Homo sapiens: one gene and its partners. The protein of the gene in region 1 purifies or fractionates together with the protein of each later gene. This does not show direct contact. Each region holds a gene or a part of one and is shown in the gene's direction. Other genes may lie near its edges. The genes, in order: MKLN1, RANBP10 and RMND5A.

Region 1 (10,451 bases):
CACAAGTACCATCCGCGTTATCTGTTGTATAGACATTTTAAGAAAGTACATTTCAAGCAGGAAATGATTTAGTGGGATGGCAACTTTAATCTTTTGTGTCTTGTTACTCTGGCCCCTGGTTTGCAGTGGGCAGAACACTAGTTTTGGAGTTAGAAAGCAACAATTTGAGATTGGAGAAATACATTGCTGCAATTTTCTCAAGTACATACATAAAATAGTATTTAATACATACGTAACTTTCATACACTTCCACTTACTATATCTTGTTTAATCCTTATGACATTCTATTGACAAATGCAGTATAATTTGTATTTAAAGTAAAGTATTAGAAGAGTAATCTAAGCTTTTTTCTTTGAAGGAGTATAGTTGAGTATTATGGAGCTGGAGTTGGAGAATATTGTGTCTGCTGGGTTGGTGTGTGCCATGCCTAAATTATAAAACTCTTGGCTCTGAACTTCTATAAGCAAGCAAGGATATTACTTCTCTGTGTGACAGAAGATGTAGGAAAGGGGTTGACTTTACTTACCTTTGCCCTAAAATCCCCTCTAGCAGCAATTGTTGTATCTTTACTGGCAGTGGAAACCATATTAAGGTACTTCTTAAACAGGTCTCATTTTAGGTTAAAGACATTTGTTGAAATTGTCCACAAAGTGGCAAATATTTGTTGGCATAGATCTAAGCATTTCGAGGTGGCAGTAATAAATCAGTAACAAAAATGGTAAACATTTATGATGTGCCGTCCATTTGCTAGGCTCTCTTATGAACATTTTTAAGTGTATCAACTCATTTAATCCTTACCGCAATCCCAAGAGGAATCTCCGTTTGCCAGATGTTGGAAGCAGGTAGGGAGAAGTTTAAACTTGCCTAAGGTCACACAGCTAGATGGAACCAGAATTTGAATCAAGGTAGTCAGGCTCCACAGTCTGTGGTCTTTAACTATAGTGTTTTACTGCTTCTGCACAAAGGTATATATAGTACAGGAAATCAGAACTTTAAAAGAGCTCTTGTATTAAAGGCACTTACATTTTAGTTGTGTAAAGAAATGTGAAGTCATTAAAAAAAATTGAACAATTTTATCTCTATTTTCTTTCTAAGGACTTAGAATTCTTTTCCCCTTCTTCCAGAGGCAGAAAAAACAAATATTTCCCCTTTCAACTCTTTTTAATTTATTTGGACTTTAAAAATGTTAAAGCAGATTCAGTTATAGGGAACACATTTTTACTTTGAGACTAAAAAAAGGCCTTTTATTTTTGTGTGCTTAGAGATTGCCTGTATTTTACTTTTTTTCTGAAATTTACACCTAATTTAATAATTAAATACACTTATTTAAATAATTCATAAAATTACATATACTCTTATACATAAAAATATTTTGTAAACTGCTAATCCCTGTACTCAAATGTTTATTTTTGTATCTAATAATGATGCTAGTTACAATTTAGTGAGCACCTAATATATGCAAGATGCTTTTTGTATACAGTTTTGTTTAATTCTTGGTACATACCTGTAAGATAGGTATTTTATATATGTTTTGTGGAGGATGAAACTGAGGTCCATACAGGGTAAGTAGCTTGCCCAGGGTCATATAGTTTTCCAGAGGCTTGCCAGGTTTTCTGACTTAAAAACTATTGCATTGTGACTTTAATAACAGTCACCACTTATTGAGTACTTTCTATTCTTCAGGCACTGTACTGAGCATTTAGCATGTGTTCTTTGATATAATAGTCTTCACAAAAACCCTATGAGATAAATATTATTATTCTATTTTAGAGCTAGGAAAAGTGAGATTTAGGGAGGTAAGTTAACTTGCCCAGGTCTAAGAGTTGAAAATGTAAGAGGGGCAGGGCAGGGTGGCTCACACCTGTAATCCCTGCACTTTGGGAGGCCAAGGCAGGAGGATCACTTGTGCCCAGGAGTTTGAGACCAGCATGGGCAACACAATGAGACCCCATCTGCAATAATAATAATGATGAGGAGGAAGAAAATGTAGGTGATAAGGTTCTCATATTGGGCCTTTTGACTTCTGTTACGAAAGCTGTTCATTATTATACATGGCTATTGTATATGTCTAATTGAGATTACAGATAAGCGCTCTAAGGTTAGAACAGCAAGAGAGGGAAAAATAGATTTTATCTTGATGTTTAAGATTTTAGTATACTCATATGAGAACTGGGAGAAACTTTGAAAGTATTTTTTACATATTAGGTAATTTCATTGGTATAGAATGATTCTTATCTTGTTTACATATTATTGAATGACTTAGATAATTTAGATGATAAAATCTGATAGATTTTTAAGTGTGTTTACCTTTTTCCTGTTAGTCTTATTACTTAAAATCAAATAGTACTTAAAATAGTACCTTGTGTCAACATGTGATTGATTCATGGTTCAGAGTACAAGTGTTATGATTTGACAACTAGAATAGAAGGTGAATTTATTTCAACTCTTTTCAAAACTAATTTTAAAATTTCACATTTAAAAATGAATATAGGCTAGGCACGGTGGCTCATGCCTGTAATCCTAGCACTTTGGGAGGCTGAGGCAGGACCATCACTTGAGACCAGGAGTTTGAGACCAGCCTGGGAAACATACCCCATCTCTACAAAAGAAAAAAAATATATAAATATTTATATATTTTTATTACATAAAATATATGTGCATAGTTATATATTATTATGTTAAAAATATGTAAATATATATATATTCTTTTCTTCTTTGTCTCTACAAAAGAAAAAGACAGCATCTCGTCAATACCCCATGTCTAAGAAAAAAATAGACACTTTTTATATCATATATATTAAAATATATTTTATATATCTTTTAATATATATTTTGATGTAAAAAATGCTCTATGTTTATTATCGAATATTTGTAAAATATGGACCCACAGAAACAAAATTTAAATTACCCTTGATATCACTACCTAAAGATTACTAGTCACCCTTTAAATACTGTTTATTATCATTCCAGATCTTTTACTGTAGATGTATGTATTTTTCAATTTACTGTTGTCCTGTTTGCTGTTCTGTATTTGCTTTTTCCTCCTTAACATATAGTAAATACTTCCTTATGTTATTAAATATTCTTCTATATTGTATTTTTTTTCTTTTTTTTTAAAGGGACAGGGTCTTGCTCTGTCACCCATGCTGGAGTACAGTGGCATGATCATAGTTCACTGCAGCCTCGACCTCCTGGGCTCAAGCGATCCTCCAGCCCCAGTTTCTCAAGTAGCTGGGACTACAGGCACATGCCATCACGCCTGGCTAATTTTTTTTTTTTAGATGGAGTCTCGCTGTGTCACCCAGACTGGAATTTAGTGGCACCATCTTGGCTCACTGCAAACTCTGCCTCCTGGCTTCAAGCAATTCTTGTGCCTCAGCCTCCTAAGTAGCTGGTATTACAGGCGTGCACCACCACGTCTGGTTAATTTTTGTATTTTTGGTAGAGACACTGTTTCACCATGTTGGCCAGGCTGGTCTTGAATTCCTGACCTCAAATGATCCACTTGCTTTGGCCTCCCTAAGTGCTGGGATTACAGGCATGAGCCACCATGCCCAGCCAACCATGCCTGGCTAATTTTTTAAATTTTTTTGTAGAGATGGGGTCCCACTATGTTGCCCAGGCTGGTCTCCAGCTCCTGGGCTCAAGTGATCCTCTCACCTCAGTGCCCCAAAGTGCTGCGATTGTAGGTGTGAGCCACTGTGCCCAGCCAAAATTTATTATGGATACATTATATTCCATGTAATGACTTTATGTCATTTTGTTTAATTGGTCCCGTGTTATTAGACATTTAGGCTTTGTGGTTTTATTTTATTTTCATTTGTGTTTCTTGTTATTTGACTATTATGAGTCATGAGGTAGTTTTGCTTTACAGAAATTTTTTTTTTTTTGAAACGGAGTTTCGCTCTTATTGCCCAGGCTGGAGTGCAATGGCGCAGTCTCGGCTCACCGCAACCTCTGCCTCCCGGGTCCAAGCGATTCTCCTACCTCAGCCTCCCAAGTAGCTGGGATTACAGGCATGTGCCACCATACCCAGCTAATTTTTTGTATTTTTAGTAGAGACGGGGTTTCTCCGTGTTGGTCAGGCTGGTCCCGAACTCCTGACCTCAGGTGATCCGCCCACCTCGGCCTTCCAAAGTGTTGGGATTACAGCCACCACACCCAGCCTGGAAAAAAATTTTGAACTCATTGGTGATAAATTCCTAGATGTTGAGTTGCTGGATTAAAGGTATCAGTTTATTTTCCTTCTATCTGTGTAGACTACTCTGAGTTCATTTTGGCATTATCCTTGGTAATTTGGAAGAAAACATATTTAAATCAGAGACAGGTCCGTAGAGATGTCTAGAGGATGCTTATATAATTCAAAAGTGATAATGCTCCCAATAACTTTTTTGTTTCTTCCTTCTCTATCCCTTTACTTTAGCTTTTAAGTGAATTTTGATTTTATTAATCACATATAGTTGAAAAATAGAATATATTTATTGTATTTGGTGTACAGATAATGGTGGTTATGAAAATGGATTTGAGGTCTTGTTACAATAATTCTGTAGGCTCCTGCAACCCAGAATTTGTGAACCACTAGTTTGGAGGCATGCAACTCCCAGGAGACCGGATACTATTATGCCCTTCCTTTTCTCCCTTTTCTCCCTATCTTAAACTGAGATTTAAGGACACTGGCCCTGTTTGGGAACCTTACTGGCCACTGAAAGTTCTGTGTTTTTCAGTCTGGGACTCTTAGAACTTCAGAAAAATAAAAACACTCAAGATGGAAGAAATGTACTCAGGATGAGAATTTGAGTCTACAGAGCTGATTCCTAGAATTAGATATTTGTGACTTTTGGCAAGTTATGATTCTTTTCTGAGCGTCAGTTTCTTGTGTAGAAATACTTTTTATCTTGATCAAATGTTGAGAGGTTTATGTACAATTTTTTGGGCACATGGGTAAATGGTTCTATTATTTGCGTTAACTTTTAGGTAAATATTTAAATAGATTTTTAATAAATGATTTTTGGCCTGATACAAAGACTTTGTGATGTTTTACGTGTAGATAAGATACATTTCAGCCACTTGTGGCAATGAGTTTGCTGTATTTCAGTCATTCAAAAATCGTTTTTGGAAATATGAAAGATTTTCTAGACTTTAATTTTAGAGATACAGCTATTTATAGACATTTTAATATGTATAAAATGTTTCAAAGAATGTACAGTTGAGAATTTAGAGATCCCTAATTACTGTTTGTTTATAATACCATTTGTCAGAAATCTCTGATAAGAGACAATAGAAAATTTATAAAATTTCTAGGTCTTTATAGGTTCAATCTTAGGATAGTTGATCCGGGTATCTTCTCTGCTACCGGATTTCCCAGGGCTTGTTTTGTGAATGGCTGGTTCTGTAGATTGTTGCTTATTAAGGGGTGGTCAGATAAAGCTCTGAGAAGTCCAGCAGTATTAAAATCTATTAATATGGGGGACTTTTGAAGAAAATATTTTTTAACATCTTTGCACATTGGGAAGATGTTTCAGTTAGAAAATTTTTTTGTTGTTGTTTAATGAGAACTTCAGGACTTGGTTACGAATATTTCTAAAAATCTGTGAAGTCAAAGTAACATTCTGTAGAATACTGTGTATGTATATTTATGCTGTAGATAAACAAAGATATTGTTTGTTTAATGGGTTTTGCTTATGATGAAATTTTACTGATTAAGATTAATCCATGTTTAAAAAAGTATACAAAGAGAAAGGAAATATCATAGTCATTATCTAGGAATAATTTAAGTAGTCTAATATAAATCTGTCCCTAAAAAAGTTGTTGAATGGCAGCTAACTAGATTGAAGTACCCTAACATAACTTATATTTTGAATTGGTTGTTAATAATAATTGGAAAACTAGGCTATGTTTAGTCCTAAGACTATAGGGTTTCCTCTCAACACATTTTAGCTGTATCCCACAAATTGTGGTATGTTACATGTTCATTATCATTTATGCAAAAATGTTTTTCAGATTTTATTTTGGCTTATTCTTTGACCTGTAGGTTTTTTTTTTTTTTTAACAAATGTATTGCTTACTTTTTGAACGTTTGGGGATTTGCTAGTTATCTTTCTGTTACTAATTTCTTAATTTCACTATGATTAGAGAACACACTCTGAATAGTTTCAGACCTTTATTGATACTTATTTTATGGCTCAGCATTTTTATAAATGTTTATGTACCCTTGAAAAGACTATGCATTCTGCTGTTAACTACTGTCTTCTATGTACTTTGTTAAGTTCAAGTTTGTAAATTGTGTTATTGTGTTGTACAAATCTTCTCTATCCTTACTGAATTTTTTTTTTTTTGCCTTTTTTTCTATTCATTACAGAGAGAGGTGTCTTGAGGTTAAGTGTCAAATGTGTCTTACTGTGATTGTGGATTTGTATATTTCTCCTTTTAGTTCTATAAAGAACTAAACTGTATGCTTTATGTATTTTGAAGTCATATTACTAGGCACATACAAACTTATCTTTCTAGTACATTGGCTCTTTATCATTATAACATGTCCCTTTTTATCTCTAGTAACACTTGTCTCTCGCCTCAAAGTCTTCTTAGCTACACCTGCTTTATTTTGGCTGCTGTTTGCTTGCATGGTAAAACTTTCTCTCTCCTTTTTGCTTTTAATGCTCCTGTAGCTTTATATTTGGGGTCTGTTTCTTGTTAAGAATAAACAGATTTTTGTTTGCCTGTTTTTAATTAAATCTGAAATATATTTAGCTCATTAATGGTAAATATAATTATTGATAAATTTGGGTTTATGTCTGTCATTTTATTGTTTTCTGTTTGTCCTACTTGTTCTATATTCTATTTTCTCTCCATTGTTGCCTTCTTTTGGATTAATCAAGTGTTTTAAAAATATTATTTTATTCCTCCCTTTGTTAGCTTGTTAGTTATATATTCTGTTACTGTTCTTTTGGTGGTTACGCTAGATCACCACAAGCTTTCTTGTGGTACATTAGAGTTGCATATTCATTAGGATTTTGAAAAACAACATCTCAGACATTGTTAGGACCCTAGAAAACTTTAATAGCATTTATCACTCTCCTGCTTTTATGTTGTCATTGTCATGCATTTCACGTCTACATTTAAATCCAGAGACTGTTGTTTTGTACAGTTAATATTTACCCTTTCCATTGTTCTTTATTTCCTTTTGTATTTACATGCTTCCATCTGAGATTAATTTTCCTCTGTCTGAAGAACTCCTTTTAGGGAGTTTGGTGGTACTGAATTCTCAGTTTTTGCTTGTTTGAAATTTATTTATTTTCATCTTTGAAGAATATATTAAATGACTGTACAGTTCTACATTATTAGCTGTTATTTTCTTGAAGCACTTTAAAGATCTCAGTTCATTGTCTTCTAGCTTCCATTGTTTCTGTTGCAAAATCAGCCGTCAGACTTACTGTTGCTTCTTGGAAGGTAGTATGACTTTCTTGTTCAGCTGCCTTTCTTTTTGTCATTCTCTTTTTCTTTAAGTTTAAACAGCTTTCAGTGATGCACCTAAGAATGGTTTTGTTTGTACCCTGTTTGGCGTTTCTGGCACCTCTTGAATTTGTAGTATGACTGATCAGCTGTGAAAAAATTTTGACTTTTTAAAAATATTGTTTCTGCCCCATTTTTGTCTCCTTTGCTCTGTGACTCCAATTAAATCTTTATTATACTTTTTATCCCCCATATGTCTCCTGCTCTCTTCTGTTATTTTTATGATTTTTTTCCTCCTCTTATCCGTTCTGGATAGTTTTTACTTGACTGTATTTCAGTTCACTTATTCTGAATTTAACTATGTCCAATCTGCTTTTTAACCCCATCTATTCTTAATTTTAGTTATAGTATTTTTTAGTTTTAGAATTATTTCATCCTCTCTTTTTAAGATAGATTCTAATTATGTGAAAATCTCTTGTCATGTATTTTTTGAGCATATTAATCAAATTGCTTTAAAGTCTGTGTCTGAAAACTTCAATATCTGTATCACCTATAGGCCTATTTCCATCATCTCTTTCCTTTTGATTTTGCATCTTGTTAGGCCAAATAATAATAATAGTTAATATATTTGTATATTAATGTATGTTAATTATATATTCTATTGTATATTATATAAATTATTACATGTGGATAATAACATAATAGTAATAATTATTATTAGGCAATTTTTTGATGGAGTGCCAGACATTATATGCAGAATTTTAGATACAAATTTTGTATCTATAATGATACATTTCCCCAGATAGGATTCACATGTCTTCAGATTCACCCATCTTCTTGCAGGCAGATAGAGATCACTGCAACTGTCAAGGACTGAGCTGACTTGAGGTTGGGTTTTCAGCCTTATAAACCTTGTTCTACCTGTAGTTTGCTTCCAACTTGGTAGCCCCCTAGAGATCTCAATTAAGAGATTGGGTATTTTTAGGGCTTCTCTGGCTTTTTTTCTTTCCAGACCCATGAGAGTTTTAAAAGCTCCTTCTTCCTTTTTAATTGCTTTCTGCTGGCTTTTTAGCCTTTTGCTATGTGCAGTTTAAAAGCTGATAAATCCCTTAAGAGGAAAATCAGTACTGAGTGTCACATTTGTTCTTCTGTGCCTTCTTTCACTAGGGGATCTTGACTCCTCAAGACTTAGCTACCAAGTTTTGTCCCCCTACTCCCATGAAATTGCCAAAAGCTTTGCTGACTTCTCTGCCTCCTAGTGGCTGTCCTTTTTTGGCTTCTTAGCCCCTTGGCCTGTGCCATTAAAGAAATAGGTGACATGTCTTGAAAGGGAAAGCTGCACAGAATGTCAGATACCCTTCAGTGAGTTTCTTGCCACCTCAAGTCTTAGCTACCTCAGAAAGTCTGATATTTTAAGAACTTTCTCCCTATTTAATACAGTTTTTCTAGTTTAAGAGGGAGTGTTGATCTGCTACAGACTATTCCGTCATATTCAAAAGCAGAAATCTTTCTGTGTTTAGTTCTTTTGGAATAGAGTGTTATATCTTGTAGGCCTGTGAGTTTCTCATGGTTATATTAATGTAAAAACGTACGACTTGATCCCCAGAGTTCTTTGGTCTCTTGCTAAGTGTTTTCCTTCATTAACTGCTTATTCTTGCTATCTGATGGGAAAGAATTGTGGAACTTAAATACAGTTGACCCTTGAACAACATGGATTTGAATTTGCAGATCTACTTACACGTGATTTTCTTCTGCTTCTGCCACCTTGAGACAGAAAGGTCGATCCCTTCTCTTTCTCCTTCTCAGCCTACTCAACGTGAAGATGACAACAATGAAGACCTTTGTGATGATCCACTTCCATTTAATGAATAGTAAATATTTTTTCTCTTCCTTATAGTTTTCTTAATAACATTTTCCTTTCTCTAGCTTATTGTAAGAATATAGTATGTCATACACGTAACACATGAAATATGTGTTAATTGTCTATTCATGTTATTGATAAGGCTTCTAGTCAACAGTAAGCTATTAGCAGTTAAGTTTTATGGGAGTCAAAAGTCATACATGGCTTTTTCAACTGCATGGGAGTTGGCGCCCCTAGGCCCCACATTGTTCAAGGGTCAACTGACTGTAACATGATTTGTTAGCAGTTGTTTTATTCTTGTTCTTAGCCAAAAAACTGAGAAGTTATTGTTAAGCAGTTGTTTTAAATGCTTATTAAGAGTTAAAATGAGATTTTATTTTTGGTTTCATTGGTGATTTGCACATTTCTTTTGAGACTTACTTGTTTATAAGGTTAAGAAATTGAGAGTTGGTCGGGTGCACTGGCTCGTGCCTGTAATCCCAGCACTTTGGGAGGCCGAGGTGGGTGGATCACTTGAGGTCAGGAATTCAGCCTGGCCAACATAGTGAAACCCCGTCTCTACTAAAAATACAAAAATTAGCAGGATGTGTTGGTGCATGCCTGTGCTCCCAGCTGTTTGGGAGGCTGAGGCACGAGAATTGCTTGAATCCAGGAGGTGGAGGTTGCAGCGAGCTGAGATCGTGCCACTGTACTCCAGACTGGGTGACAGAGGGAGACTCAGTCTCCAAAAAAAAAAAAATTGAGAGTTTAATCTTTCTATAAGTATAGTATTTCCCTTCATATAATAGGATTTTTAAATTATTTACCTTTTTGTTAGGACTTTTATGGAATCTTATATTTATGTGAAGATGTAGGTTTAGAAGGAAGATAATTGGGTTTGGTGTAAACTTTGGTTTTGTAAATGTTAGTATTTAATACTTTAAAAATATTCCTACTTTTTTTTTTAGTATGACTAATATTTATTATGGCCAGTATCACCTATGTATTTTTTGTTAAAGAAGTTGTCTTATATACATAGAAATGGTATAATAAGCTACTTTAAACAACCCTGGATATGTTTCTTTTCCCTTCCTGTCACTGTCCTCTTTCTTCCCTTTTCCCTTTTGATTAAGAAGTTCCATCAGAAAAGTCATAAAATCTA
Region 2 (10,451 bases), on another chromosome or scaffold:
TGGAAGGAAGGAAGGTTTGCTGACTCTGGTGGCTGCTTTGGGATCCCAAACACCCCAGTGATGCCCCAGGAAATGCCTTTGTGATCTTATGGGCCTCTGAAGCCCAGACCATAGCACCCAGGGTCCTGTTAAAACCTCCAGTCCATGGCTCAGAATCCTTCCCTCTTACCTGGAAGCCCCAGAGAGGGGCTGTGGTCCTAGGCAAAGAGAACAGAATCAGGTGGAGAATGCTGACCCTGGCTAGGGAAGGGTCTAGTTATGGGGACGTGACATGAAATGACCAGGCATGAGCATGGCCAGTATGCAGCCACATGCAAGAAGGTATGGGGGAAAGACATGGTAGGCAGTGACGGTCAGGAAGGCTTGCTGGAGGAGGCGGGCCTTGCCTGTGGTGGAGGATGGTAGGGGAAAGAAAGGAAGCGAGAGGTCCTCTGTGTGCAGAGCCCATGGTGGGCTGAAGCCAGCATACAGGAAAAGGTCCCATACCTTGTGCAGGTACAAAAATGCATGGTTGGCCAGGCGCGCTGGCTCACGCTTGTGATCCTAGCACTTTGGGAGGCTGAGGTGGGCAGATCACCTGAGGTTGGGAGTTCAAGACCAGCCTGACCAACATGGAGAAACCCCATCTCTGCTAAAAATACAAAATTAGCCGGGCGTGGTGGCGCATGCCTGTAATCCCAGCTACTCAGGAGGCTGAGGCAAGAGAATTGCTTGAACCCAGGAGGTAGAAGTTGCGGTGAGCTGAAATCGCGCCATTGCACTCCAGCCTGGGCAACAAGAGCGAAACTCCGTCTCAAAAAAAAAAAAGTGCATGATACTCAGGAAGGAACATGGCCTGAGCACGGAGGTGAAGGGTGGACTGAGGGCCCTGGGAAGACCATCTGCAGTGACAGTGGGGAGGAGGCTAGCGAGGCTCTGGACAGTTGCAGTGGGGAGCCACAGGAACCACCAAGTGAGGGAGGGACCGAACAAAAGCCAGTCATGGTAGAGGCTAGGTGGAAAGCAGGGAGCCTCACACCCTACTGGCCAGAAGATCCTCTTAGCGAGCCTCTAACAGGAAGGGTAGCTTCTCTTCACCCTTTGCCAGCACCAGGGGTCTAGACCACCGGTTCCCTTTTGCCATGTTCCCCTCCTCCCTCCTTTCCTGCGTCATCCCATCTCTGCCTACCCCCCATGTATCTATCTTTTGGTTTGTTTTTTTTTTTTCTTTCTGAGACAGGGACTCACTCTTGTCACCAAGGCTGGGTTGCAGTGGCAGAATCACAGCTTACTGCAGCCTCAATTTCCTGGACTCAAGCCATCTTCCCACCTCAGCCTCCCGAGTAGCTGGGACCACAGGTGCATACCACCACACCTGGCTAATTTTTATCTTTTTATTTTTTGTAGAGACAGGGTCTCACTTTGTTGCCCAGACTGGTCTTGAAAACCTGGGCTCAAGCGATCCTCCTAAATTGGCCTCCCAAAGTGCTGGGATTACAGGCATGAGCCACTGTGCCCAGCCTCATGTGTCTTATTTTTTTTGAGACAGAGAGATCCTTGGCCCTGGATCTTTCCAAGAGGAGCCATGACCCACTATTGCAGCAGACCTTCATGGGCACGTCTGAAGGGTCGTGGAGCCCAGCCCATTTCTGTATGCTTTGGCTGAGTTCCAGAAAGGGCTCTTGGGCCTTGAGGACACAATGGCCTCTGATACAGGGCAGGACACTCTCCATGATGTGCCTTGCTTGCTTTTCTTTTGCTTTCTCCCCTCAAGCTTTGGGGCATAATGTCTCTGCTAGGGAGGTGGACAGAGGTGGCTCCGCCCTGCCTCCTCCAGCCTTGCTGCAACTCTCCCAGCCCAAGCATGGGCCAGCAGCAGCCATGGAGGTGAGGTGAGGCCTTAGAACCCCACTGCCCTCAGGGCCTGACTGACATTTCATTCTCCTCCTCAGGCCAACCTCTACCCCACCGTAGGCCTGCAGACACCTGGGGAGATTGTGGACGCCAACTTTGGGCAGCAGCCCTTCCTGTTTGACATTGAGGACTACATGCGGGAGTGGCGTGCCAAGGTCCAGGGCACGGTCCACTGCTTCCCCATCAGTGCCCGGCTTGGCGAGTGGCAGGCAGTGCTGCAGAAGTGAGTGCCCTGCTCCTGCCCTTACCCACTCCCACCCCACCCCAGCCCACTTCACTCTAGGCCCCTGTAGGGCTACAAGCTGTTCTTACAAATTCCAGCGGGTGGATCCTTTCTGGGAAGCATTCCCAGGGCCATTCAGCCTGCAGCTCTCCTGCTTCTCTGTCGTCGGATGGACAGCTCCCACCGAGTTCTCCGGGCTGCTCCTAATTAAACCTTTGCCTCTCAGCCATATTGGAGGCTCCTGTATATAAGATCACCAGCAGGGCTGTTTTCCTTCCCCAGGTCATTTTGCAGAGGATTTTGCAGAGGATGCCCTGTGGTCTCTTCCTCTGTGGACCCTTTTTCTACCATAGGGAGTATCCATGGTGCTGTGACTCTGGCCTGAGGCCACCTCACAGGGCCCAGCATCCAACTGAGTCTCATTCGTCTATAGCGGTGGTGGAGGGAAGGGAGTTCTCCCTAGGACCAGCTGAGCTAGCTCCTTGGCTGATTAATTCCCAGACTGTCCTGGAAGCCAGTGTCGCTGAACTCCCAAGGGAGGCCAGCTTTGGGTTTCTCTTCCACTTGCCATCTGCAAGCCTGAGTGAGGCAGTGACCAGTATCCACTCTGCCAGGAGGTGGGTGTTAGCTTGGCTCTCAAGGATGGGCAGATGGGCATGGGGAAGGGCTGGGCTTCCACTGCCTGTGGTCATTGCCCTGCAAAGGCACCAGGGTGCTAGGATTCCTGGGGTGGGGTTGGGGTACACACTGAGTTCTTTGTGCAGCCTTTGTCCCTTGAGGCAGGCCCCAAGGATGGGCTGAGGCAGGGGCTAGGTGGCCAGACCTTCCCCAGGAAAAACAGCATTGCTGCCTCTTGTTCACAGCCCCCCAGAGCAGATGACAAGGACTTCCTTGGATGGCCAGGACAGCGCCACTCCCAGAGCAGGCTTGGTGGGATTGCCAAGAAGAGGGGTGAAGATGCCAAGTCTGTGTAGGGGAGGAACTGATACTCTCAGTTTTCAGGGCCTAGGCTCAGCACATGGATGTGTTTTTGTTTTGGGGTTTTTAAAAAAATACTGAGATGGGGTCGCACTTTGTTGCCCAGGTTGGACTCCTGGGCTCAAGTGATCCTCCCACCTCAGCCTCCTGAGTAGCTGGCATCACAGGCATGTGCTACCATGTCCAGCATAGCACATAGGTGTTTTTGTTTACATGTGTGTATCCATGTGCTTGTATGTGTTCATATGTAGCATTTGCCAAGACCTGCATATAATTTGTGTACTGTGGTTTTACATAACTTCATTTAATGAATATTGATAATGGCTATGTTATCACAGAGACAAATTTGTCACAAGCCTTTTGGCTGGCTTCCTCTAGTGGAAGGTCAGGTAATTCCTTCTCTTTTACTTGTGTAGGTAACCCTCTTGTAGATAAAGACTTTTTCATATTTACCCTTGTGTTTATAATAATAATATGGTGTAATAATAATAATTATACTTACTTTACTTTTTTCTGAGTCAGGAGTTTACTCTATTGCCCAGGCGGAGTGCAGTGACACAGTCATGGCTCACTGCAGCATGGACCTCCTGAGCTCAAGCAATTCTTCTACCTCAGTCTCCTGAGTAGCTGGGACTGTAGGCATGCACCACCACACCTGGCTAATTTTTTGTATTTTTTGTGGGGACAGGGTTTCGCCATGTTGCCCAGGTTGGTCTCAAACTTCTGGGCTCAAGTGATTTTCCTGCCTCGGCCTCCCAAAGTGTTGAGATTACAGGCATGAGCCACCACACGCAGCCAATAATTTTTTTTTTTTTTTTTTTTTTTTGAGATGGAGTCTCGCTTTGTCGCCCAGGCTGTAGTGCAGTGGCGCAATCTCGGCTCACTGCAAGCTCCGCCTCCTGGGTTCAAGCCATTCTCCTGCCTCAGCCTCCTGAGTAGCTGGGACTACAGGTGCCCGCCACTACGCCCGGGCGTAATTTTTTTTTGTATTTTTTTAGTAGAGATGGCATTCCACCGCATTAGCCAGGATGGTCTTGATCTCCTGACCTTGTGATCCGCCCGCCTCAGCCTCCCAAAGTGCTGGGATTACAGGCATGAGCCACCACGCCTGGCCATATTTTTAAAGTAGAGATGAGATCTTGCAATGTTGGCCAGGCTGGTCTTGAACTCCTGGCCTCAAGTGATCCTCCCGCCTTGTCCTCCCAAAGTTCTGGGATGACAGTCATGAGCCATCACGCCCAGCTGATAATTATTATTTATACTATAATATTATGTAATATATCATTTCATAATAAGAAGTCTTATTTATGGACTTCTTCCTGCCAGGTACTTTATGTGTATTATCTCATTTACCCCTTAAAGCTTGAGGGAACACACACCCAAACTTCTGTGCCTTCCACCTGACAACCCTTCAGACATTTGTGTTTAGAGTTACAGTAATGACATCAGACACATGTACACACCAAGGTATTCACTCCTGTACACATCAGATTTGAGGGTTCAGCCTCTGCTTTATATGTGTACACACATGTGCCACTGTTCAGCCAGCTTCTGCTGGGGTTAAATGGCTACAGGGAGTCAGACTTCTCCAGACCATTTCCCAATGACTGTGTTCCCATTGGCCCTGCTGCTGCCTATCTCTGCCTGGCAAAATCAGCCTGATTGCTTGGCTTCTTGGGCCCCTGATTTGTGGTGTATCATGGTGTAACTCTGGGTTGTGAGTTAGCTTCCCATCACTCACTCACTAGAGCTGGAACTGCTGAGGGCAGGTTCACCTGGAGGGCTGAAATGCTTCTCTCAGGTACATGGCACAGCCTGCAGAGGGGCTCCTGTGTCTGTAGAAGGTGTGCATGTGGCATGCATCCTGTCTGGAAATCTGCCAGATTACCTGGCTAGCTGCAGTTTCGGGAAGCTATCAGTGAGACTATTGGCCTCTTAGGCTTGCTGCATTTCCCAAAGAGGCAGCCACCTGTGAGGAGTGTGCCTGTGTGTGTACTTCTGTTATCATACTCGCTTACTTGTGGGCAGCATGTCTCAGATAAACTGCAGCCACTCCTCTGAACTGTGGGCACAGATGTGGTGACCAGCCCCTCCGAAGCCTGACTTCATGACCGTGGGGCACCATGGGGGAAGTTTTCATTTTGTTTCAGCCCCTTTATTCTCATTCTGTGGAGGTTACACCTCCAGGACGTGTTTAGGGAGACCTCTGGGGGAGGTAATCTGTCCTGAGTCCATTGGGTAGTCAGTGAGAAGTGCAGTTCTTGAGTGTCACCTGAAGCTCTTCCTTTCTTCTAGCATGGTTTCATCTTACCTCGTGCATCATGGGTATTGTGCCACAGCCACGGCTTTTGCTCGAATGACTGAAACCCCGATTCAGGAAGAACAGGCGTCCATAAAGAACAGACAAAGTAAGGTTTATTCTACTTTCCCCTTTCCCTTCCTCACCTGTCCCTAACTCTGCTCTCTGGCTCATGTCAACCCTGGTTAACCTGTCAGGAGTCCATTCAGCTCTGGTCCTCATGACCAGCTTGCAGCTCGAGGCCATGTTCCTGTCCCACCTTCAAGATGGCACTGCCCAGATGGACAGTTGGCAGGATGGAGACGTCTCAGGGCAGCCTCCCTAATGCACATTCTGAAGGCTGGGCGCAGGCCAGGCCCTGGCATGGCTGGTTCCATTCCTCCATTTCCTCCCTGCTTGTTTCCTTCCCCCTGAATCCTGGATTCCTCTCAACCTCCTGTTCATGGTCTTCCAGGAAGGCTGTTTGCCTGCCTTAGTAGTTCTGCTTATTCCTAGCCAGAGAGGGGACTGAAGTGGTCAGATAGGGCAAAGCCAGTGCTCAATGGCTGCTGTGGGGGCACTACCCTCTGCTCCCCACCACTGGTCCTGCCCTTTGCAGACAACCTAAAGTCCTCCCTTGGCCAGAGCTCTCCCAGTGTTGATGCTGGCCTGGATGCTGTGTGTCTGGAGGCTCTTTCACGGAAGGAGGGGTGTTGGAAAAGAGGAAAAGGAGCCCAGTGAGGAGCTAGAAGGAGAAAAGGAGAATGAGGGCAAGTGGGTGTGGATATGCGTGTCTGTGAGTGCCTGCCTACCCCTCTCCAAGCCTGCTGTCTCTTCTGTATGTGCACGTGTCTGTCTCCCAGAGAAGCTGTGCTCAGCCAGACAGACGGAAAGGGATCCCAGACTTGGGATCTATGAATGAGAGCCTCAGACTCTGAAGTTGCTCCCAGCGAGATGCACCAGGCCCCACGGCAAGAGCGAAAAGGCAGCAGCAAGATGCTGATGGCGTGAGAGGTGTCAACATCAGAGGTGCCAGCATGAGGAGGATGGCCTCCTCTCCCAGCAGGGGGCATGCTGCAGCCCCTGAAGACCACCAGCCAGAGCCCTGGTCAGAAACCAGTGTGATTCCATTGCCATTCCCCTGTGAGGCCTGGAAGGAGAGGAGTCTGTCTGAAGAGGAGCCACTCAGGCCGCCAAGCTGCCTGGGTGCCCATCCCCAGATCATGTTGCCCCAGCTGGGGCCCTACCCTGCCCCCAGGTCCCTGGCACCATGTGCCCCGCAGGAGCAGACCTCCACATTTACCCTCCTGCCTTTGGGCTGAGAGTCTCCCCTCCATCTTCCCCATATTCTTGAGGACTCTCTGACACTTGGCAGAAACCAGGATCTGTTGGGCTGGGCAGTCAGGTTCTTTCTCCAGCCTCCTCTCCTGTGAGCATTTCAAGCTGGCGAGGCACTCTGAGCCGGACCCTACCCTGAGGCTGGCAGCATCCCAGGTGTGTGGCTGTGGGAGAGGCCTGTAGCCCTCGCTCACTGCTGTGTTCTTGCACCCTGCAGAGATCCAGAAGCTGGTGCTGGAGGGCCGTGTGGGCGAGGCCATCGAGACCACCCAGCGCTTCTACCCAGGGCTGCTGGAGCACAACCCCAACCTCCTCTTCATGCTCAAGTAAGTCTTGGGCACCCCCAGCTCCCCCAGAGTCCAGCCCCTCTCAGCTGGTGGTGGGAACGTCAACCTGGACCACAACCAGAGCATTATTGCTCCGCTCCCTCCACAGGTGCCGGCAGTTTGTGGAGATGGTGAATGGGACGGACAGTGAGGTCCGAAGTTTGAGCTCCCGAAGCCCCAAGTCCCAGGACAGCTACCCTGGCTCCCCCAGCCTCAGTCCCCGACATGGCCCCAGTAGTTCCCACATGCACAACACAGGTCAGCCACTCTCCAGAGGGCTCTGGGAAGAACTGGTGTGGAGGAGAGAGGCCACTCCACATACCCTTTCCTGGGCTGGGCTCAGGGCTCACTGCTGGATTTGGGAGAAGGGAAATGGGACCACTGTGGTTGTTCTTGGGGCTTCATTTCATGGGAAGCTGCCCCTCCTCTTCTGACTGTCACCCTGGCTTCTAGGAGCAGACAGTCCCAGCTGTAGCAATGGCGTCGCGTCCACCAAGAGCAAACAGAACCACAGTAAATACCCTGCACCCAGCTCCTCATCCTCGTCCTCCTCCTCCTCCTCGTCCTCTTCCCCATCCTCCGTCAATTACTCCGAGTCCAACTCAACAGACTCCACCAAGTCCCAGCACCACAGCAGTACCAGTAACCAGGAGACCAGGTGCCTGCCTTGCTCTGCTTCCTCCTCTGCCTTCTGCCTTATGCCAGCTGGGCCCATTGCAGTCTGTCCTTTGAGCGCCCTGCCCTTCACCCCCAGCCTCCATCTCAGGTCTGTGCCTGGAGTCCTAATTTTTGGCCCACCGGGCCAGACATCAGCTCTGGCTTCTGGCCCTCCCCACGATTTAGCTGCACTTTCTTTGGCCTTGGCTTTCTCCAGAGGCTCCAATGATGCCAGGCTGAGGATGTGGTCTCCTCCAAAGAGGCCGGGCCTGTGAGAACCCTCAGGGTCCATCATGAGGGAGCTTTCCCTGGCTCTGGCTTGTAGACAGCCAGGTTGGGCAGGCAGGGGAAGCTAAGCCGCAGGCTAGAGCTCTAGGTGGCTCTCAGCATCCCCAGGTACACCTCAAGGCTGACCTGAGTTTGGCTTCCAACCAAGGCCACAGAGCTGCCCATGGGGGCCATGGGGCCCAGTCATTAGGTTGGGGGATATGTAGAAGAGGTGTGTGAACTCAGAGGAGGGCCAGGGAGGGGAGAATCACAGAGGCAGCACTGGGGCAAGGGTGGGAATCAGGTGACAGGCCTCTGAGGATAGCTGGTGTCACAGTAGGGGCCAAGTGCTGAAGACTTGGAAGCCTGAGCTGTCCTTTCATGTTCCTGGGGGTCCTCGGTTCACCCACAGCAACCCATGGCTACAGCTTGAAAGGAGGCCCAACCAGGCTGCTCCAACCACACCCCCTGGGCCAACTCCCACCTCAACCCCTCCCCACAGCGACAGTGAGATGGAGATGGAGGCAGAGCACTACCCCAACGGTGTGCTAGGAAGCATGTCCACACGCATTGTTAATGGTGCCTACAAGCATGAGGACCTGCAGACGGATGAGTCCAGCATGGGTGAGAGCCACGGCCCGGTGTGCTATTCTTTGAGGGCAGTGTGCAGTCTGGGTGCCCTCTTCCCCTGGGAGGGGCTGGGGTAGGCAGGCTTTGGCATCTTGAGAAGCTTCAGCCAGACCTGGTCCACAGCCTCCTTAGCCGATTGTGAATGGGTCCTTGAGGTGGCTCCAAATGTACGAAGGCCCTGGCCTGTGCCAAGACCACCTATGTTTGAGGCTGGAGGGTGTTCGAGAGCATGGGCACCCTAATGAGCACCCTGCGTCTGTGCAGGCTGGGAAGAGGGACAACTTCCAAGTCCTCCCTAAATCCTAGACTGTGCGCCAGGTGAATGAAGAGAAGAACGCCTTGACTGTAGCTGCCTCACCTGTTCCTCCCAGCCCTGCCTGCCTCTGGCAGAAGCTGCAGCCCACCCGGGGTCCTTCCTGCCCCACCCTAGTCCTGCCCTTCCCTCTTCACCCCTCCTAACACGTTCTCCACTGGGTTCTGGATGCAGATGACAGGCATCCTCGGCGGCAGCTCTGCGGGGGCAACCAGGCTGCCACAGAAAGGATCATTCTGTTTGGCCGCGAGTTGCAGGCATTGAGTGAGCAGTTGGGCCGGGAGTACGGCAAGAATTTGGCCCACACAGAGATGCTGCAGGTACAGGATGAGCCGGGCCTCATGCAGAGCAGGCCCCATTTGGTGTTGGGGGCAGGGTGGCTCTGGGAGAGTCCAGGGGGCAGCAGGAAAGAGTGGGCTCCAGCCAGGTCTGCAGAGGGAAGTGGGGCATCTGGGCCCACTGGACATGTGCCCTCCACACCTAGGCTCTGGGGAGAGTACAGCCCTGCCCGACCCTACACCCCACATTCCAGGCTGGGCATCATGCAGGGCCCTGTCTCCCTCTGGAGCCACGGGTAGCAGGGTGAGCTATGGTGTGTGCCACAGTCCTCTCAAGAATGCCCTGTCCTGTAGGATGCCTTCAGCCTGCTGGCATACTCAGACCCCTGGAGCTGCCCAGTTGGCCAGCAGCTTGACCCCATCCAGAGGGAACCTGTGTGTGCTGCCCTCAACAGCGCCATTTTAGGTGAGTGAATCTATTTATTATTATTATTAGAGACAGAGTCTGCTCTGTAGCCCAAGCTGGAGTGCAGTGGCACAATCTTGGCTCACAGCAATCTCCACCTCTGCCTCCTGGGTTTAAGCAATTTTCGTGCCTCAGCCTCCTGAGTAGCTGGGACTAAGGTGCGTGCCACCACGCCTGGCTAGTTGTTGTATTTTTAGTAGAGACGGGTTTTGCCATGTTGGCCAGGTTGGTCTCGAACTCCTGGCCTCAGGTGATCTGCCCGCCTTAGCCTCCCAAAGTGCTGGGATTACAGGTGTGAGCCACCATGCCTGGCCTAGGTGAGTGGATCTAACAAAAACAGAAGCTAGCCCATAGCTACCTGGGTGGTTCCCAACCCCCACCCCAATTGGCCCCAGAAAGAGCTGATGTTTATCCACACTGGGGCAGCAAGCTCTGTACAGGCCCTCTCTGGTGACTCATAGGACTCCTGGGCTCCCATGGTTGAACCTAAACCTTGACCTCTGTCTGCCCAGCTGAGTTCATGATGGGTCCTAGGCCATGGCAGTAGGCCCAGGCCAGCCCAGCGCTCTACATGGGGCTAAGGTCCTCAGGTTCCTGGCATGACTTCAGGGCCATGGCCTGGTGGCTGGGACACACTTACACAGAGGTACTGAACACTCTGTTCCAAGAGAATCTGTCCACTGCCCCCTCCTTCCACCCCCAAGGGAACTTTGACCTGGGCCCAAGCCCTGGGCAGGCCAGTGACCAGGCCTTGTCTTTCCTCCACAGAGTCCCAGAACCTGCCAAAGCAGCCCCCTCTGATGC
Region 3 (10,451 bases), on another chromosome or scaffold:
ATGTTGGCATTGGTGTCTGTTGATCATCTTTTTCCATGTGAGTTGAGATTTTCTTGGTTCTTTGTATGCCAAGTAATTTTGCAGTATCTTGAACATTTTGAATATGTATTATAGTACTCTGGGTCTTGTTTAAGTTCTGTGGAGAGTGTTGGTATTTTTGTTTTAGCAGGCAATCAACCTTGTTGGATTCAGGCCACAAGTTCTAACCAGTCTTTTCTGGGTTGTAGTTTCAGTGTTAGTTTTGTTTCTAAAGCCATTACAGTTATTTAGATTTGTCCTGTGTGTGTAACACCTGGTAGCCAATATGGGACCTAGGAATTAGGTCTATTCCCTAGTTCAGTTTTCAAAATCTGTAGTATGCTGTTTAGAGTCAGGACCATGCATGTATAGCTCAAAGGCAAACCCAGAGGTGTAGATAAACCACTCTCTTAACTAGTTGGCCATGCCCCCACAACCACTTTCAGCCTCAATACTGCAGTTGTTGGGATGTGCCATGGATTATTATGTTGATAGGCATATGTGTTTTCTCCTTTTTTCCCCTCCCATTATAGACAGTGCTGCAGTGGGCATGCTTTTACAGGTCATCATTGCATTCCTCTAAAAATATTGCTGCATATAATGCCTAGAAATCAGTTCATTCGCTTGATTTTATTTTATTCATGGACACCATTATTAAATCTACTTTAAAAAAACATTATCTAAAAATATACCTATTTACTCTTCTAGCATGACAAGTTTTAGAAAGGAGCAGTGGAAAAATTCCTTCCTTTGGGACGCTATAAATTGCAGTTGGGTTCTTATTGGGGTATCTCAGACTGAAACAAAGACCATTTTTTTCCTGTTAAGTGGGGTGAAAATAATCTATTTATGATTCCCTTTCTCTTTCTTTTCCCCAGAATTTTGATTCTGACATTAGCAGTGTGGGAATAGATGGCTGCTGGCAGGCAGACAGCCAAAGGCTTCTCAATGAGGTGATGGTGGAGCACTTCTTTCGACAAGGAATGCTGGATGTGGCTGAGGAGCTCTGTCAGGTAACAGTGTGCCAACTGGGAGGATATGAAAAAGAAACAAGGGAACTCCTTGGAGTTTATAGTATTTGCAGGGTGGGGTTTTGAGTCTTCCTCTAGCTATAGATAGATTTTTAATATTTAAATTATCAGAGATGACCTCATTTTACTAGGAGTATTTTGGGGAATTTTTTAAGTGGCAAAAATTATAGTTCTAGAACTTGTTATCCAGATCATTTTTTTCTTGTTCCTGTCCCAGAAGGTTAGTCCCAGTTCATGAATCAAAGGGCGCAAAAGCGATATTCTTTCTTCATGTCCATTTTTGATATAGAAGGTTAGTATAGCAGACAAGAGGAAAGGGACAAAAACATTGATGTTTGTTCTTCTGTTCTAGCCCAGCTTAAACGATTTTATCAAATGAATTTCCAGCTAAAATTTTTTACTTCGCATTAGCAGCATTTGTCTTTTATTTCTATCACACATGAGTTAGAACTCTACAACAGTTTACCAATACCATGTAGTCATAATAGTAGTAGCTGCCATATATTGAGTGCTTACCTTAAGCCAAGCCCTGCCTTTATTCCTTGCTGCAATCCCATGAAGTAAAAATTATTGTTTCCATTCTACAGATGAAAAATCTAAGGTCTGGAGAAGTAAGTTGCCCGAGGCCTTAACAGGTTCTTTGTGAAAGAACTGGGATTCAGTCCCTGATTCATATGTCTTCACACTCCGTTCTAAGCCACCATGTGCTGTTGCATTTTTGTTTGGAAACATGAAGGACCGAAAGAATTAGTTTAAAATCAGTCTGTAAACCAAACCTCTAATCTAAGCCTTTTCTATTTTAAACAATTCAGATAAATGATAACTCGGTTTTTCTCTGTACCTTACAGGGATTTTGTGTATGTGTCCATGTAATTTCCTGCAGTAAACTGTCATTGAGGATTGTTTGCTTTTAAGTAACAAAAGACCCACAATTACAGTGGCTTAAGCAAAAGTGAAATTTTTTTCTTGCACAGAAATCGGTAGTAAGACGTCCACAGCATGTTTGGTAGCTCTGCATTGTGAAACTCTTAGGGACTTAGCACCTTGTACCTCTGTTATTCCCAGGGTGTCTCCTGTCTTCAGAGTCCAGGATAGCAGCCAAAGCTCCAGCCATACCTTTGTATCCCAGAAAGGGGCAGAGTGCATATTTATGTTTCATTGGTCAGAACTTAACGTCTTACAAAGCCATACCCAGCTTTATTCCATTTGCTTATGTACCCTGCTGAAATTTGGGGATTCTACTATGGAAAAGAGGGGAAGAATGTACTAGGGGGCAGTCATCAGTCTCTACTATAGGGAATTATCTTTAATGGCTTGCCCCATATTTTACAATCTAGAATATACTTTTACCACTAGCTCCTTACCCTGATTACTGCTAACAAAAGTTCTTTCTTTCTTTCTTTTTCCAGGAATCTGGTCTTTCTGTAGACCCAAGTCAGAAGGAACCATTTGTGGAGTTAAATAGAATATTAGAGGCATTAAAGGTCAGAGTTCTGAGACCTGCTCTGGAGTGAGTATTGAGTTTGCTTTCTTTTGAGTACTTTGAGAACTCTCTGTAAGAAAACTCAATCAGAAAACACATTAGAGATTTTTAGATATATTTATCTTACCTGTGGTAGACTTCAGAGAAATCAAAGGAGAATTATTTTATTTATTTTGGCTAAGTGAAATATGGGGGGTGTGCAATATGAGAAAATGGTTGGAGCTTATTTCACTTATCAGTTGGTCTGAATTCCCATGAGAGAAAAGGGTTTTCTGTTTCCAGGCTACACCACCACTTTGTGTGGGCTGACATTACAACAAGCACTATTGTTCAGCCAGTGCAAGTTTGATATTTAAGCTTCCTTCATGTGCTGGGTTTTGCTGGGTTTTATGCTAGCATTCTAAGAAATTATTGGTTATTGGAACTAGGTGGTGTGGATGAAGAGAACAAATATTTTTATAAAGCTACTCTATTCTTAATTACTGTGGATTTTGGTAATTGACCATGAACCTCTCATTGATAAGAATTGTCTGAAATTACTCTGTAAGCTATAATAAATATTATTCTAGAGCAGGGTCAGCAAGCTTTTCCATAAAGGACCAAGTAGGAAATATTTTAGGCTTTTCATTTCACATAAGGTCTCTGTCGCATATTCTTCATTTTATTTTACAACCCTTTAAAAATTTAAAAACCCATTCTTGGCCATCTGCTATACAAAACAGGCAGCAAGCTGTATGTGGCCTGTGCCATAGTTTGCTGGCCCCAGTCCTAAAATTTTTTACTGTGAGGATTACCAGGTTATTTGTAATAAATAGCTCATAAAATAAAGGGAAGAAACTGGATTATAGAAGCAGTGATTTGTTGTGAGCTTATAGCTTTGGAATCCTGGTATTTTAAAACCAGAAAAATTAACCATCAGTGTTACAGGGTTAGCTGGGAAGTTGACTTTTATAAAATGTACACTTTTTCCCTTAAAATTTAGTTCCACTAACCCATTTAATTCTTCATAGCTTAGTTTTTTCTTTCTAATCATTTCTCAGTTCTTTCTCCTTTTTGAGACAGGGTCTCACTGTCACCCAGGCTAGAGTGCAGTGGCATAATCATGGCTCACTCCAGCCCCAACCCCCCAACCTCCCGCCTTAGCCTCCTGAGTAGTTGGGACTACAGGACTGTGCCGTTATGCCCAGCTAATTAAAAAAAATTTTTTTTTGTAGAGACAGGATCTCACTATGTTACCCAGGCTGGTTTCGAACTCCTGAGCTCAAGTGATTCTCCCACCTCGGCTTCCCAAAGTGCTGGAATTACAGACTTGAGCCTCTGTACTTGGCCATTTCTCAGTTCTGAGAAAATTTTGTGTAGTTCTAAAACCAGCCCAGATGACTAGACAGAAATTCCTGTATAAATTTATATAAAATTCTTGTATAAATTATAATAGATCTCACTTAAGAACTGTATCTCTGTGTAAGATGCATATTACCTTTGTAGAATTTGTTTAAGCAAATTTCAGATTGTGACACATCTGGGAGATAAATTCAACCAAATACCTCTAACACCTCTTAAACAAAATATGGCAACAACTACTTTTTTTTTTTTTTTTCCCAAAGAGACAGAGTCTTGCTCTGTGGCCCAGGCTAGAGTGCAGTGGGATGATCATAGCTCACTGCACACTCTCAAACTCCTGGGCTTAAGTAATCCTCCTGCCCCGGCCTCCTGAGTAGCTAAGACTACAGGTGCACACCACCACACCTGGCTAATTTTTAAATATTTTATAGAGACAGGATTTCTCTATGTCGCTCAGGCTGGTCTCAAACTTCTGGCCTCAAGTGATCCTCCTGGAGCGTCAGCTGCCCGAAGTACTGGGATTATAGGCATGGGCCAATGTGCCCGAGAAAGCCTACATACATATATGAACATGTAATGGGTTTCCCAGTTGTTTTATAGTGATTAGCAAATAATATTTGGGTTGTTATTCAAGGTAATATTCACTTATCTATGCGTTTCTTAGGTTTTTTCATTAAACTTTGTTCATATGTGCTAGTCATGTACGTACTATGACTATATCTGTAGTCACTGGCACATAGTATTTGCTACCTTAGCCTTCAGAGTACTCCAGACTTTTCTCCTAAGAGCCTTTTAAACTTTGTGCGTATATAAGATATGTTTCTTATTGATAAGCATGTTATGTATATTGATTATTTCTGTAAATTTTGTCTATTATTTGTTGCCTTAAAACAATTCCTCTCAGGCAGAGAGAGGACTTGTTCCATAAGTAAAAATTTTCTCATTTCATGTTTCTGGGAGTAGTGTTTAATATCAGCATGAGGGAATGTAGTGGTAATCATAGTTAACTCTGCTTGAGTGGTTATTGTATGCCTAGCATCGTTCTAAGCATTTTACGTGTCTTAACCTATTCAACCCTCATATTAACCTATGAGGTAAGTCATCTTACAGAGAAGCAATTAGGGCCTAGAAGATCCTCTGTGAAAAAAAGTCAAAAGATTATATGAGAAATGCTTTACATAATAGTCCCCCAGTATTCTCATTTGAGGTTCATTTTAACTTATTAAGTGTATCATCAAGCCAGGTGCAGTGGCTCACACCTGTAAGCCCAGCACTTTGGGAAGCTGAGGTGGGCAGATCGCTTGAGCCCAGGAGTTCGAGACCAGCCTGGGCAACATAGCAAAACCCTATCTCTACAAAAAAATAGAAAAATTAGCTGGGTATGGTGGTGTACGCCTGTAGTCTGAACTACTCAGGAGGCTGAAATGGGAGGATCACTTGAGCCCAGGAGGCGGAGTCTGCAGTGAACCAAGACCACACCACCACTCCAGAGCCGAATCCTGTCTCAAAAAATAAGAAAATAAATAGAAGTAAAAACGTACCATCAGTAATCCTACAGTAAAGAAACTCATTTAACTTGGTATAACCCAGTGTTTTCTCTGTGTATTTGACCAATCTTGTTTTCCCTCCAGATAACACATTTAAAACCCATAAAATTGGAGTTATACAAAACATAAGATTTAATAGAAATCGTCATTACAACAATTCAGATTTTTCCAATTCTTGCCTATTGTGGGTGCAGAGCAGATACTGACTAAGCATCTTTCATGAGCTAGGTACAGAAAATTCCCTTTACTCAACTTACAGCAAAAGTTGAATGATATGGGACTCCAATTTGGGGAATTCTAGTTAAGGTACAAGGCGGGAGATATCTGCCAGTTATGCAGCATCCCATTTGTTCCTGCTGGGAAGGATATCATGGAGCTCACAAGGGAAAAGAGGAAGGAGAGGATGCAGCAATTCCTCCAGACTGCCTATGCGGTGAGAAGGCAGAGGCCAGCCAAAAATTTGAGGTGGCTAGGCCGGGCACGGTGGCTCATGCCTGTAATCCCAGCACTTTGGGAGGCCAAGGCGGGCGAATCATCTGAGGTCAGGAGTTCAAGACGAGCCTGACCAACGTGGAGAAACCCCATCTCTATTAAAAATACAAAATTAGCCAGGTATGGTGGCGCATGCCTGTAATCCCAGCTACTCAGGAAGGCTGAGGCAGGAGAATCGCTTGAACCCGGGAGGCGGAGGTTGCGGTGAGCCAAGATCGCGCCACTGCACTCCAGCCTGGGCAACAAGAGTGAAACTCAGTCTCAAAAAAAAAAAAAAAAAAAAAAAAAAAAAAAAAGTGGAGGTGGCTAAAGGCCATTGAGGGCCTAGGGGAATGGTGATATTGTGGAGAGAAGTGGCAGAACAACACCTGATTACATAGATCTAATCAGGACCTTGCCTGCTCCTGTGTTCCGTGCCCTTGTACCTCTGAGTTTGTACAGATTTTCCCCCTCATCCAGATTTCTTTTATGCTCACCCAGATTGTTTTATTTGCTTTTTGAATTTCTCTTGGCGCCTAGAGTAGTGCTTACCTCATAGTAGGCCCTCAATGAATAACAGTAATCTGCAGGAGAATTTAGAGCAAACTTGTCATCCTCTTCCATGGTGGCAGATAGAAAGCCAAAAATAGTGTTAACGAGAGAATAGTAACTTAATACAACGAGGTGGGGGAAATATTAGAAAAAATAGGAACTGTCCTTGTAGCTATGCCATTATTAACATACATATTGAAAGAAAGCACTATCTTTAGGGGAAGCTACTTGGTTGCCTTCCTAAACGTGTCTCAAAGAGTAATACTACCTTGCTGGATTTGCCACAGTCTAGTATCTGACTTTCAGCTTTGCAGACTTGGAAACTTGTTTTTGGTGTCCTTATTTTGTTTTGTTTTCACTAAGAACAGGCCTTTAAAAACGATAAAAACCTGAATTGCTAAGCTGCGTACATAGTTTGGATTATTAGGGGCTGTGAAACAAGCTTGTGGTAGGCAGGTCCATGTGGAAGGCACATGAGCTTGCAAAGCCTGGAGTTGGAACAAGAGGAGATTGTTCTAGAAAATGTTCAAAGTTCTCAGGCTAAAATGTCCTGATGCCATTATGTCCACCATGGAGGTTGTGTTGCAGAGCCGTTGGGCAGTTCAGACTTCATTCACTGACTCCTTTTCTCAAAATTGTCCTTGGCTTGCCTTGGTCGAGTTTTGAGTCAGCATTAAGTATCCCAATAGGTAATAAATAAGAGTACAAAATCAAAAGGCACAACAAGATAAAAATACAGTGAAAAGTAAATCTCCCCACCTTTGCCTTCTAATCACAGTTACTCTCCAAACAGGCAGCCACCATTAACTGTATTATGTATACGTACATTTTTATGCACAAGTGGTTGCATACTATACACAGTGTTCTGCTTTTTACTTGAAAAATTTTGAAGTATTTGCCTATATCAGAGCATATAGAACTATTTTTTTTTTTTGGTGGCTGCTTAGTGTTCTCTTTTAGGGATTATACCTTAATTTTATTTAGCCAGTTCCTATGGATGGACGTTTGTAGTTTCCGATATTTTGCTTTATAAGTGATGCAGCATTGAATATCCGTTGCACATTATTTTGAGCATGCCTGCTAGATATGTTGTCCAATATGGTGACCACTCCTATGTGTAGCTCTTACTAATCTCTGCATTACTGAGAACCTCATGTAAAAGGGTGTGTGTGTGTGTCTTAAATAGAGTCAGATATGCAATACCATAGTTTGTGTGGTTTCTTAAATAGCATGTGAAAAGGACAGAGACTCACACCAACTCTGAGATGAGTTTAATGGTAGTAGTTCCAGCAGTGGACTCAGCCCATAGCTGAAAAATTACCATTTGAAAATATCTAAGAAATGAAACACTGAGTGTTCTTTTCAGTCTCTAAAGCAAAGTTACAGAGTTCCTCACTTTTTTGACTGAACTTTTTGTCAGGTTTGCCATTCTCTGAATTTTTTTAAGCATTTGATTCATGTTACTAAGGACATTTCACCAGGTCCACACCTGTGGAGTAAAAATCAATGTCATTCATTCCCCTGAACTTCAGCTTTTACCCCCAAGAGTATAGCCTTAAAGGAAATTAGAAAAAGAGGTTTTTGTAAGCCTTTAAATGCTGTGAAAGGTTACAGTGGAATGTGCTGTGGGATTGGCAAGAGGCTTTTTTTCCCTAGTATTACTAGAAATAGACACCCACCCAGGCTGGCAAAATTGTAAGATTAGAGAGATAAGCCCACTAATGCTGTCTGTTAGGTTCCTGAGGGAGAACCGCTAACTATGAAGGTGAAATCTTGTATTTATTTTTGGAATGATGTAGAAATTCTAAATATGGAGGTAACTGTGTGCCAAGTCTTTTCACAGGCCTGACAATTAAGATAATTAATGCTAATGTTTCTGCTGGGTAATTGTATAGATGTGGATTGCTTCTAACTTAGTCTTCTCATAAGTAATATTGTTTTGGGGTTTGTTGGTGGAAAGGCCCCAAAAGGCTCTTCATCAGAAGAATGTAGTGGCAGAGATCAGTGTAACACTGTTGATCTTACTGTCATTTTTGGGGTTCAGTGTTTCTCTAAATGGAGTAATTCCAAAGGTGACAGTGTTCTCGTGGTCCACGCTGGAAATTTGGGATCAGAATTTTTTTAAAAAAATTATAGAGTTAATAATTTCACTGCATTTTTAGTTTGCTTGCCCCCCCGCCCCCCACCATCTCTACTAAAAATACAAAATTTGCCAGGCGCGGTGGTGAGCACCTGTAACCCCAGCTACTCGGGAGGCTGAGGCACAAGAATCACTTGAACCCGGGAGGCAGAGGTTGCAGTGAGCCGAGATCACGCCACTGTACTCCAGCCTGGGCAACAGAATGAGACTCTGTCTCAAAAACAAAAACGTGGGGAGGAAGGAAGGGGGAGGGGCAGGGGCAGGAATCATTTTAGTGAGAAATAGAAAACGAATTTCGTTTTCTTTGTAATTCTTTAAGATTTATGAGAATGGGCCACAGACACCCTGACTTGCTCAGGTTCTCAAACTTTATGTCTTTCCTCATTATATCAGTCTGGAACTTCTTTGTCTTTATAAAGTAACCTCTTACCACTGAGATCTCTGTGTCCTTTCTCTCCTGTTTGTATTCTTTTTTTTTTGAGACGGAGTTTCACTCTTGTTGCCCAGGCTGGAGTGCAATGGCGCAATCTTGGCTCACCACAACCTCTGCCTCCCGAGTTCAAGCGATTCTCCTGCCTCAGCCTCCTGAGTAGCTGGGATTACAGGCATGCGCCACCACACCCGACTAATTTTGTATTTTCAGTAGAGATGGGGTTTCTCCATGTTCATCAGGCTGGCCTCAAACTCCCAGCATCAGGTGGTCCACCCACCTCGGCCTCCCAAAGTGCTGGGATTACAGGCCTAAGCCACTGCACCCAGCCCTTGTATTCTTTATTGAACCTATGGGCAGTCTTTGCAGGTTTCTAACATACATAAATTCGTTTTTACCACAGTTTAGTTAAATAACACCTGGCTGCCAACAACACAGTTCAGATTTCAGTCACCATGATGTATTAACTGTGAGCAATTGTATAAAATACAGACTTCTCTGCCAGCTCTTCAGTCTACACATCTGGACATAACAGGAGCATCATGGTCATGACCAGTTTTGTCACTTCGCTCTTGATCACTGCACATCTACTGTCAGTTACTCTCAGGCAACAGCTGTGTGGGTTGTGTCACCTCTTTAACTCCCAGGGATAAACCCACGTGACATTTTACAAAAATGGATAATTGGAAGACGGACTTGGCAACAAGAAAAACCTCTAGAAGTGAAATTGAATGTGATTAGAAAGATTTGAAAAAGGACAACAGCAAGATGAAGCTAGGGCAAGACCTAAGCCTACAGGAAGCTAATGGTACAAAGCATATTGGAAAAGTCCTGTCACTATAAAGACGAGGGTAAAGTCACTTCACCATCTTTTCACTTATATTGCACTAGAATAGAAAGATGCTTGTGGTTTAGATGGAACATTTACTTCTACTTTGGATTGAGAGAGAGAAGTGTGTGTGTGTGTGTGTGTGTGTGTGTGTGTGTGTGTGAATCAGTTTGGCTACTATTCGGGCCAAATTGATAATAGTTGCCTTATTGAAAGAAGATGGTAATTACAAGGATATTGAAGAACTTCACAGCCAGTAAAAGATGCTTTTATCATGTTCAGAAGTTGTGAATTGACTAAAGCTATCTGAGGAAGCTGCTATTGTGAGTAAGGATGCTGCTGTGAAATTTGTACTCAGATGTCAAGGATTCATTAAGGCGGATGTTAACAATGATCATCACAGAAGGCAACTCTTGATACCAGAGCTTAGCAAGAGGCATAGAATAGTGAAGAATAGTGAATAGAGTTAAAAATAGATTGACTTTCTTATTAGGAGGCAGCTGCGGAGAGTGACTTTGAATAAAACCTATGCTTATTTGGCCAGTTAACTGTGGCCAGGGAATTGAGGTCAAGAAAATACAAATGTGGGTTTCTGGGTACAATCCTGGA

The links.
Region 2: the proteins of MKLN1 (region 1) and RANBP10 purify together in Homo sapiens (affinity purification with mass spectrometry; 2 studies listed by BioGRID and IntAct, with this or other methods). This does not show direct contact.
Region 3: the proteins of MKLN1 (region 1) and RMND5A purify together in Homo sapiens (affinity purification with mass spectrometry; 6 studies listed by BioGRID and IntAct, with this or other methods). This does not show direct contact.

Annotation. Positions count from the first base shown.
Region 1 is NC_000007.14:131,329,664-131,340,114, forward strand, and holds part of MKLN1 (muskelin), read left to right. Parts: intron 1-9,981; exon of another isoform or gene 9,982-10,451. UniProt on the Homo sapiens protein: Component of the CTLH E3 ubiquitin-protein ligase complex that selectively accepts ubiquitin from UBE2H and mediates ubiquitination and subsequent proteasomal degradation of the transcription factor HBP1.
Region 2 is NC_000016.10:67,726,523-67,736,973, reverse strand, and holds part of RANBP10 (ran-binding protein 10), read left to right. Parts: intron 1-1,931; coding exon 1,932-2,116; intron 2,117-2,174; exon of another isoform or gene 2,175-2,425; coding exon of another isoform or gene 2,426-2,733; intron 2,734-5,389; coding exon 5,390-5,502; intron 5,503-6,927; coding exon 6,928-7,036; intron 7,037-7,145; coding exon 7,146-7,294; intron 7,295-7,489; coding exon 7,490-7,694; intron 7,695-8,372; coding exon of another isoform or gene 8,373-8,462; coding exon 8,463-8,584; intron 8,585-9,077; coding exon 9,078-9,223; intron 9,224-9,535; coding exon 9,536-9,647; intron 9,648-10,415; coding exon 10,416-10,451. UniProt on the Homo sapiens protein: May act as an adapter protein to couple membrane receptors to intracellular signaling pathways.
Region 3 is NC_000002.12:86,751,000-86,761,450, forward strand, and holds part of RMND5A (E3 ubiquitin-protein transferase RMND5A), read left to right. Parts: intron 1-896; coding exon 897-1,031; intron 1,032-2,458; coding exon 2,459-2,559; intron 2,560-10,451.